Linked DNA regions of Homo sapiens. The protein of the gene in region 1 interacts with the protein of each later gene in a biochemical or structural test. Each region holds a gene or a part of one and is shown in the gene's direction. Other genes may lie near its edges.

Region 1 (3,825 bases):
AGGCACATGTTAAAGTGTCAGGTGTGTTTTTTTCCCTTTAATTCTTCAGTATGTTTATATTCAATAACAGTATTGTAATTCATTGAGTTAACTAGTAAATTGTGTGCTTTTGAAAAAACATGAAAAATGTAAATTGACAGCATACTTCATTTGGAAAAAAGTAAAAGATCCGAGGAACTAGTATGTCACTTATTTATTTTTATTTTATTTTATTTTTTACTTTTTGAGACAGGGTCTTGCTCTGTCACCCAGGCTGGAGTGCAGTGGCATGGTCACAGCTCACTGCAGCCTTGACTTCCTGGGCTCAGGTGATTCTCCCACCTCAGCCTTCCAAGTAGCTGGGACTACAGGCATGCACCACATTGCCTGGCTAATTTTTTGTGGAGATGGGGTTTCGCCATGTTGTCCAGGCTGTTCTTGAACTCCTGGGCTCAGGCAATTTGCCTGCCTCATTCTCCCAAAGTGCTGGGATTATAGGCGTGAGCCACTGCGCCCAGCCTTACTTATTTTTAAATCAGATTTTTTAATCAACTAAAACAGCTATGAGTTAAGTACCTGCCCTGCAAAAATTTTTAGAAAAAGTTTTAGGATTATGAAATTAAGAATTATTTTCCTTAACTGGAACAGTTCTAAAATTTATCTGATACTTCTCTAACAAGTGAGTGATCTCATGTAACCCCAGTTTGTATCTTAAAGGCTGCAGCATAGAATTGAGCTGTATAACAGTGTTAGAACTGTCAAGTGATAATCACAGAACAGTTTGTATCGGTTTTATAATTCTCATGTCTTGATCAGATCTGAAGGAAATAGGCATACCCTCCAACATTCTAAAAATTATTTATTTTTATTAGGATTTGTTTATTAAAGTTCCACGAGCTGCTTTATGGTCAGTTGGGCTGAGTAGTAGATATCTTAAAGACATGCAGTGAAAGTGAACCCTGTCATATCATGGTGCCTCTTTCAAGGTTCCTCTGTAAGTTCCTCATCTTGCAGAATTATTTCAATACCAAGGTATGGTTGAACCAGCTGTCCAGCCTTAACTCTATTTAGTGCCCCATTACTAATGTTCTTTTAACTGGTTTGTATGTGTTTTAACTGTCCAGTGTTTGGATTTTACCTCTTGATAGCTCCATTTGTCCCTGGTGCTGCTTTTAAGGATGTAGGGCCATGTGATCAGGTATCAAGTTGAGTAGGTACGCAGTTGGCCTGGTGATGTATCTGTGCCTGTTTTATCTTCTCCCAGGAAGAGCTGCTTTGGTATAGTTGTTTACTTGGATTCATACAAAGAACAGGGCAGCAATCTTGGAAAGCTTTCTGAAGCTTATAAGAACCTGAAGGGGTTTGGAGGGGGAACAGTAACAAAGGCTGCCTTTATGTCTTTGGTCACAAAGCACATAGATGTATGTTCTGTAAAGACTAAAGTGATTGTTATACCAGGGCTTCCTGACCTTCGGGAGAGACTCAAAAAAGCAGAGAGGAGCACAAAGTGAAGTTAATTTGGTTGGCTTGCTTTATCTGGTTTCTCATTTTCTTTCAATTTAAACCTGAACATAACACCCTTCTCCGATACCTATCCAGCAGACTCCTGGTTGGGAAGCCCTGTATTAAATTTTGAGAATGTACACAGTTTTCTTTTGTACAGTGCTTTACAACTGCTAAAAGTTAACTTGTTTAAAGCAAAACAAGACCTTGAAAGGTCAATCATATTAAAGCTGGTTTGATTATTAATAGTTATCTTTTAGGAAGAAGCTTTTTTCCCTATGTAAGATGTCATACTGCAGATTTAAAATATAGACTATCAATAAAATGCATGAAGTGATCATTTGTGCTTGATCATCTCTCCTTGGGTTTTTCTTTAAAAAGGGGAATCTGCTATAAAGGTTCTGTTGCTTCAAACCAATGTCAAATAGACTTGATTTTTAGAGTCATGGAATTACAGTGCAACCTTGATTTTTATTCCCCTCACTGCTATGAGTGTGGGCAGGTACTGGTTTATATGTTATAACTTCCGTTTTATCTGTGTTGTGTAGTTGAATGGCTTAATCGTTGAGTGGTAAAATAAAAGATTATATTCCAATACAAGAATCCTGGAAAGATTTATGTGAATGACATTTTAAGTAGGCGCATCTTTGCTGTTTCTTGTATTCTCGCCATTGCTCTGACCACTCCCTTGCTTGCCCTGTATATATACAAAAACTTGTAGGTGTGCACGTGTGCTTGTACTTCTGTCTTCCATTTCTATCTTAATCTCTTAAACATATTGCTTAAGCCACTAAGATGTCCTTGTTTCAAGTAAATCGTCACATTGTGACACCTGGTGTATTGTATTATAGTTTCATTTCCTCTGGTGCCTGCAGAGCTATCTGTCATTGGCATCATAACTCGGTTTCTCAGGATAGTTTTGATGTAGTCAGCTCTTCAACTCATGACCTTCCCAAGGTTTTAAGTTTAGTGTCATTCATGATTTTATTATTTGAAACTCAATACCACCATCAAAAAGTTAGTGCTCTAGACAATGAAGCCAAAGCACAGGCATCTTAGGTCAGTGAAAAGGATCCAGACATAAATTAGCCAGGTGTGGTGGTACACAGCTGTGGTCCCAGCTACTTGGGAGGCTGAGGTGGTAGAATCACTTGAGCCCGGGAGGTCAAGGCTGCAGTGAGCCATGATCATGCTGATGCACTCCAGCCTGGGTTACAGAGCAAAACCTTGTCTCAAAAAAACCCCCAGATACCTAGAAGAAAGGATTCGATAAATCTGGGTGGATTATAAACTGAACTCTTAATGGTCATTTTAAAAAATAAGAAAGCAAGGGTCCAGTTTCTTTGAGGTCTTTGAATTTAGACAAGATTTAACTATAAGGCCTTGCATGGATTACTAACTATAATTAAATTAGCTAAACTTTTCTGGTTGCTGTCAGGCATTGTATTAAGTATTCTATATAAATTATTTAATCATCACAGTGACTGTGAGGTGAAAGTATACCACCCATTTTATAGGTAATGCAGCTGAGATACAGATGTTTGGTAATTTGCCCAGGTCACATAGTAAGTAGCAGATTATTTGCAATCATCTTTGATGCAGTCATCTTCCTTGTGCTCTTAATCCCACTACTATATGACTTCTAATTTGTTTCTTAGTATTTATCCCAAGCCCTAGACTAGATTGCTTATGAGGTGTGATTTCTTAGGAAAAACATCAGTTTTGGCTGGTTTGCCAAGAAAAAAAAAGGCCAAATTGGTTTTTGTTTATTTTTTTGTTTGTTTGAGATGGATTCTCGCCCTGTCGCCCAGGCTGGAGTGCAATGGTGCGATCTTGGCTCACTGCAACCTCTGCCTCTGGGTTCAAACGATTCTCCTGCCTCAGCCTCCCGAGTAGCTGGGATTACAGGCGCCCGCCACCACGCCCAGCTAATTTTTCTATTTTTAGTAGAGACAGGGTTTCACCATGTTGGCCAGGCTGGTCTTGAACCCCTGATCCCATGATCTGCCCGTCTCGGCCTCCCACAGTGGTGGTATTACAGGCGTGAGCCACCACGCCCGGCCGCAAATTGTTTTTTGTTTTTTTGTTTTTTGGAGGATTAATGGTAATATACTGTAAATTCAGTAAAGCACTGGGCATTACCAGATACACCTTAGCACTATGAATAACATGAACTATCATTTTAGCAGTTTAAGTGTACCTTGTAATCAGCCCTAGGGCAAACGGTATCAAGGTGTTTTATTTCCAGAAGTCTCAAAATAGACTGGAATAAAAATTTGGTGAATTCATCAACACAGACAATGGGTCCACGTCTTGCAGCTACAGCTGCTGCAGCTACTCCTG
Region 2 (3,825 bases), on another chromosome or scaffold:
CTGGGTTGCCTAATAGAGGAAAAAAAATCACTTAAAAAAAGACAGATCCCACAGTGAATTTATATTTGGTTTACAATACACTTGGGCTATAAGGTGTTTTAAAATTATTGTTCTTTGCTTTAAGTTAATACCATATTAGTATTTTAAATTTATAGAGTACCTTTGATTTCAAGATGCTGTATAAACTTTAGTTACTTGATAATAACTTTATTGTGGAATTGCCCCTTTGCTGAAAGGTATAAACATTTCTTACATGGTGATGCACACACTCACACACACACACTCACACACTCATACACACTCTCTCTGAAGAAGAGGAAATATTTAAGCCATGAGATCTCTGCCCACAATTGATATTAAACCTTTCCACATATTATTCTTAAAACCACAATCAGTGAACTGTTTGGTATTTGTCAATGCTAAGAAGGTGGGGCTAATTTAATAATTTGATCCCAAATTTTAGATTCCTCAGGCAGTTGGGGGTTAGAATCTGATTTCATCCATCAAGCTACTTCTGTTCTTTATGACACATTAACATATGATCATTGAAATGGGCTGTATGGTAACACTATCAACTTCAACTACTGTTTCTATAACATTGATTACAAAATGTATAATGTCTATATCATTATACTTATATCTGATACAGGCTTTTCTTTCAATGGTTTGGATAGAAAAATATTCTTTACAGTAAAAACTTTGGGATAATTTTTTATACCATTATTGTTTCTGAAAACCAAAGGCTGGAAAAAGCAGTTTAGTGTAATTTCTAATATTTTAAATTCTTAGGTATGGAGAAGCAGAATAAGATTACTCCTCCAGAACATTTGTTTCAGACCTTTTTATACATTTAATGTTTTTGTATGCTGCTTCTCATGTTATTAATTTCAAAGCCCTTGGCAATAAGGAGGTTAACCTTGTCTATAATGTAAGGAAGTTTAACTTTAAAAATTTCCCTTTAGATATGCTAGCGTCTTAATCTTGTTTCACTACATATTTTATCGATTCAAGGCTTTAAAAATTGTAGCTTAATTCTATTTCACAGGTTTTTAAGTATGCCTATACATCATAATGACTTTATTTATTTATTTTTTGAGTTGGAGTTTCACTCTTGACTGGAGTTGAAGGGCTTGATCTCGGCCCACTGCAACCTCCACCTCCCGGGTTCAAGTGATTCTCCTGCCTCAGCCTCCCGAGTAGGTGGGATTACAGGCGCCCACCACCACGCCTGGCTGGTTTTTTTTGTATTTTTAGTAGAGACGGGTTTTGCCACGTTGGCCAGGCTGGTCTCAAACTCTGGACCTCAGGTGATCCGCCCGCCTTAGCCTTCCAGTGTGCTGGGATTACAGGCATGAGCCACGGCACCCGGCCCATAATGACTTTATATACTAGAGGTGTTAGTGATTTGAATGTCCCCAATTTGTTTTATTTTCTTGGTTTCTGAGGAGGAAGCCAGTGTAGTTGAGCTCCTTCCTTTTCTTTTAAATTCTGTCTTCTAGTCTGACCCTCTTCAGGCAGGCAGTAGAACATGCCAAGGTCCTTTTTGTAGTTTGGTATTCGTAATAAAGTCTGTGTATTTTAGTCATCACTTTTACTTTTTTCTTGTTGGTTGAGCTATTACTATCACAACATACTAACATCTCATTTAACATAACTCAGTTTTAAAGATAAATGAAGGGTCATGCTTAGGCATACAAGATTTTTATTTTAGCCTTTTTTTTTTTTGAGGCAGAATCTCATTCTGTTGCCCACACTGGAGTGCAGTGGCAACAGCGTGCAGTGAGCAATCCCGGCTTACTGCAGCCTTGACCTCCCGGCTCAGGTGATTTTCCCACCTTGGCTTCCCAACTGGCTGGGACTACAGGTCCATGCCACTGTGACTGGCTGATTTTTTTACCTTTTTTTTTTTTTTCCAGTACAGATGGGGTTTCTCCAGGTTGCCCAGGCTGGTCTTGAACTTCTGTGCTCAGGAGATCCTCCTGCCTCAGCCTTCCAAAGTGCTGGGATTACAGGTGTGAGCCACCATGCCTGGCCTATTTGAGCCTTTTTTGGTGAGAGTCTTAAAGACGTAATATGTCCTCCTCTTTTCAAATAGACCATACTTAGTAGAACTTAATGTTTTATTCATGACTCAGTATAATTATGAATGCCCTCGCCCCTAGCAATACTTGCCCATCTTTTAAGGCTCAACTCAAAGATTACTGTTATCCCTAGAACTTTCCCTGACCTGAGTTGAACTGTCCTCTATGACTCTAAGAAGCTCTTCTAGTACCAGACCTAACCCACTGGTAGGCGTTTATTGTTCCTATGCTTTAAGTGCCATGAAGCCAGCATCCTTGTGTGAGTATGGATTAAGACCTTTTTGGCATTTTATTTAATGAATGCTGGAGAGCTATAAATACTTCCGAATAGTTCTGCATGTGTTCTTTATGGCTAATGCATTGGGTATGAGTGGCAAGAGGTGAGGCTCTAGACAGGGACCAACCTAGTTTGGACCTTACTGTAGTTTGCCAAGATGTTCATTTTTTTTAAGGTGGGGGGAACCATTGCAGGATTTTAAGCTTTAATATATTTGCTGTTTAGACACAATCTGGGAGCAGTATGGAGGATGGACTGGAATGGGAACCATGAAGACTGGTTTTAGGATAACTGGTTAAGCAGATTCAACAGCAACCATCGTTCAGATTTTTTTGTTTGAATGTTTATTTCCAAATTTTTTATTACAAATAATTGCTGTAAACATCTTGGTGTAGGTAACTTTGATTTTTTTTTTAAGGATTCTTTTTTTTTAGGATGCTTCCATAAAAATAGTGTTACTGAGTTCAAGTGTGTGGATATTTTTAAGGTTTCATGAGTAATTTTTCCTTTAGGCTGCTTCTTACAAGAGTTGGACCTATTTAGAGCAGCAGTAAATAAAGATGTCCCTTTTTACTATTCTGTTATAAGTATAAGCTAATTGCATTTTACATTTTTTGCTAATTTCATGGCATGTGCCATTTAAACATTCGTGAAGCAGAATATTTTCCTGTCTGTTTACTAATGATATTTATTTTCATTGACTTGTTTGGCCTTGTCCTAGTTATGTTAGAGCCTTAGTGTTTTTCTTATTGATCTACCTGAGACTTACAAATATATTAACCTGTTGTCATATTTGCTACAAACATTTCCATGATGAATTATTTGTCTTTTAATATTGTTCATTGTTTGGACATGTAGAAATGTGTTATCTTAGGAGTCAAAATCTGTCCAACTTTTGTTTTGTTTTTCCTATTCTATACTTGGAAGAACTTATTCTCCAAGAAGTTTGATAAATAAGTACATTATATTTAATGTTTTTAAAAAATGGTTTAATAAACTATTTCCCCTGCAATTGCTATTTAGCCATCTTGTCATTATTTATTAACCAATTCTTCCTTTCCACAGTGATGTAGTATCTTTTCAGTTATATTAGTTATAGAGTCAGATATAGCTCTTGTTCAGTGCCATACTGTTTTTTTTATTGTAGCTTTATAATTTAGTTTAGTATTCTCACTAGGCCAGTTTTTTAAAGAGACGGAGTCTCACTCTGTCACTCAGGCTAGAGTACAGTGGCGTGATCTTGGCTCACTGGAGCCTCTGACCCCTGGGTTCAAGTGATTCTCCTGCCTCAACCTCCCTAGTAGCTGGGATTACAGGTGCATGCCACCACTCCCAGCTAATTTTTTTTTGTATTTTTTTTGGGTGGAGATGGGTTTACACCATGTTGGTCAGATTGGTCTCGAACTCCTGACCTCAAGTGATCTGCCCACCTTGGCCTCCCAATTTCTTTTCATTTGTTTTGGTAGT

The links.
Region 2: the proteins of RLIM (region 1) and SMURF2 form a complex in vitro, tested with the Homo sapiens proteins (one study listed by BioGRID).

The regions. Positions count from the first base shown.
Region 1 is NC_000023.11:74,583,486-74,587,310, reverse strand, and holds part of RLIM (E3 ubiquitin-protein ligase RLIM), read left to right. Parts: 3' UTR 1-3,825. UniProt on the Homo sapiens protein: E3 ubiquitin-protein ligase.
Region 2 is NC_000017.11:64,655,619-64,659,443, reverse strand, and holds part of SMURF2 (E3 ubiquitin-protein ligase SMURF2), read left to right. Parts: intron 1-3,825. UniProt on the Homo sapiens protein: E3 ubiquitin-protein ligase which accepts ubiquitin from an E2 ubiquitin-conjugating enzyme in the form of a thioester and then directly transfers the ubiquitin to targeted substrates.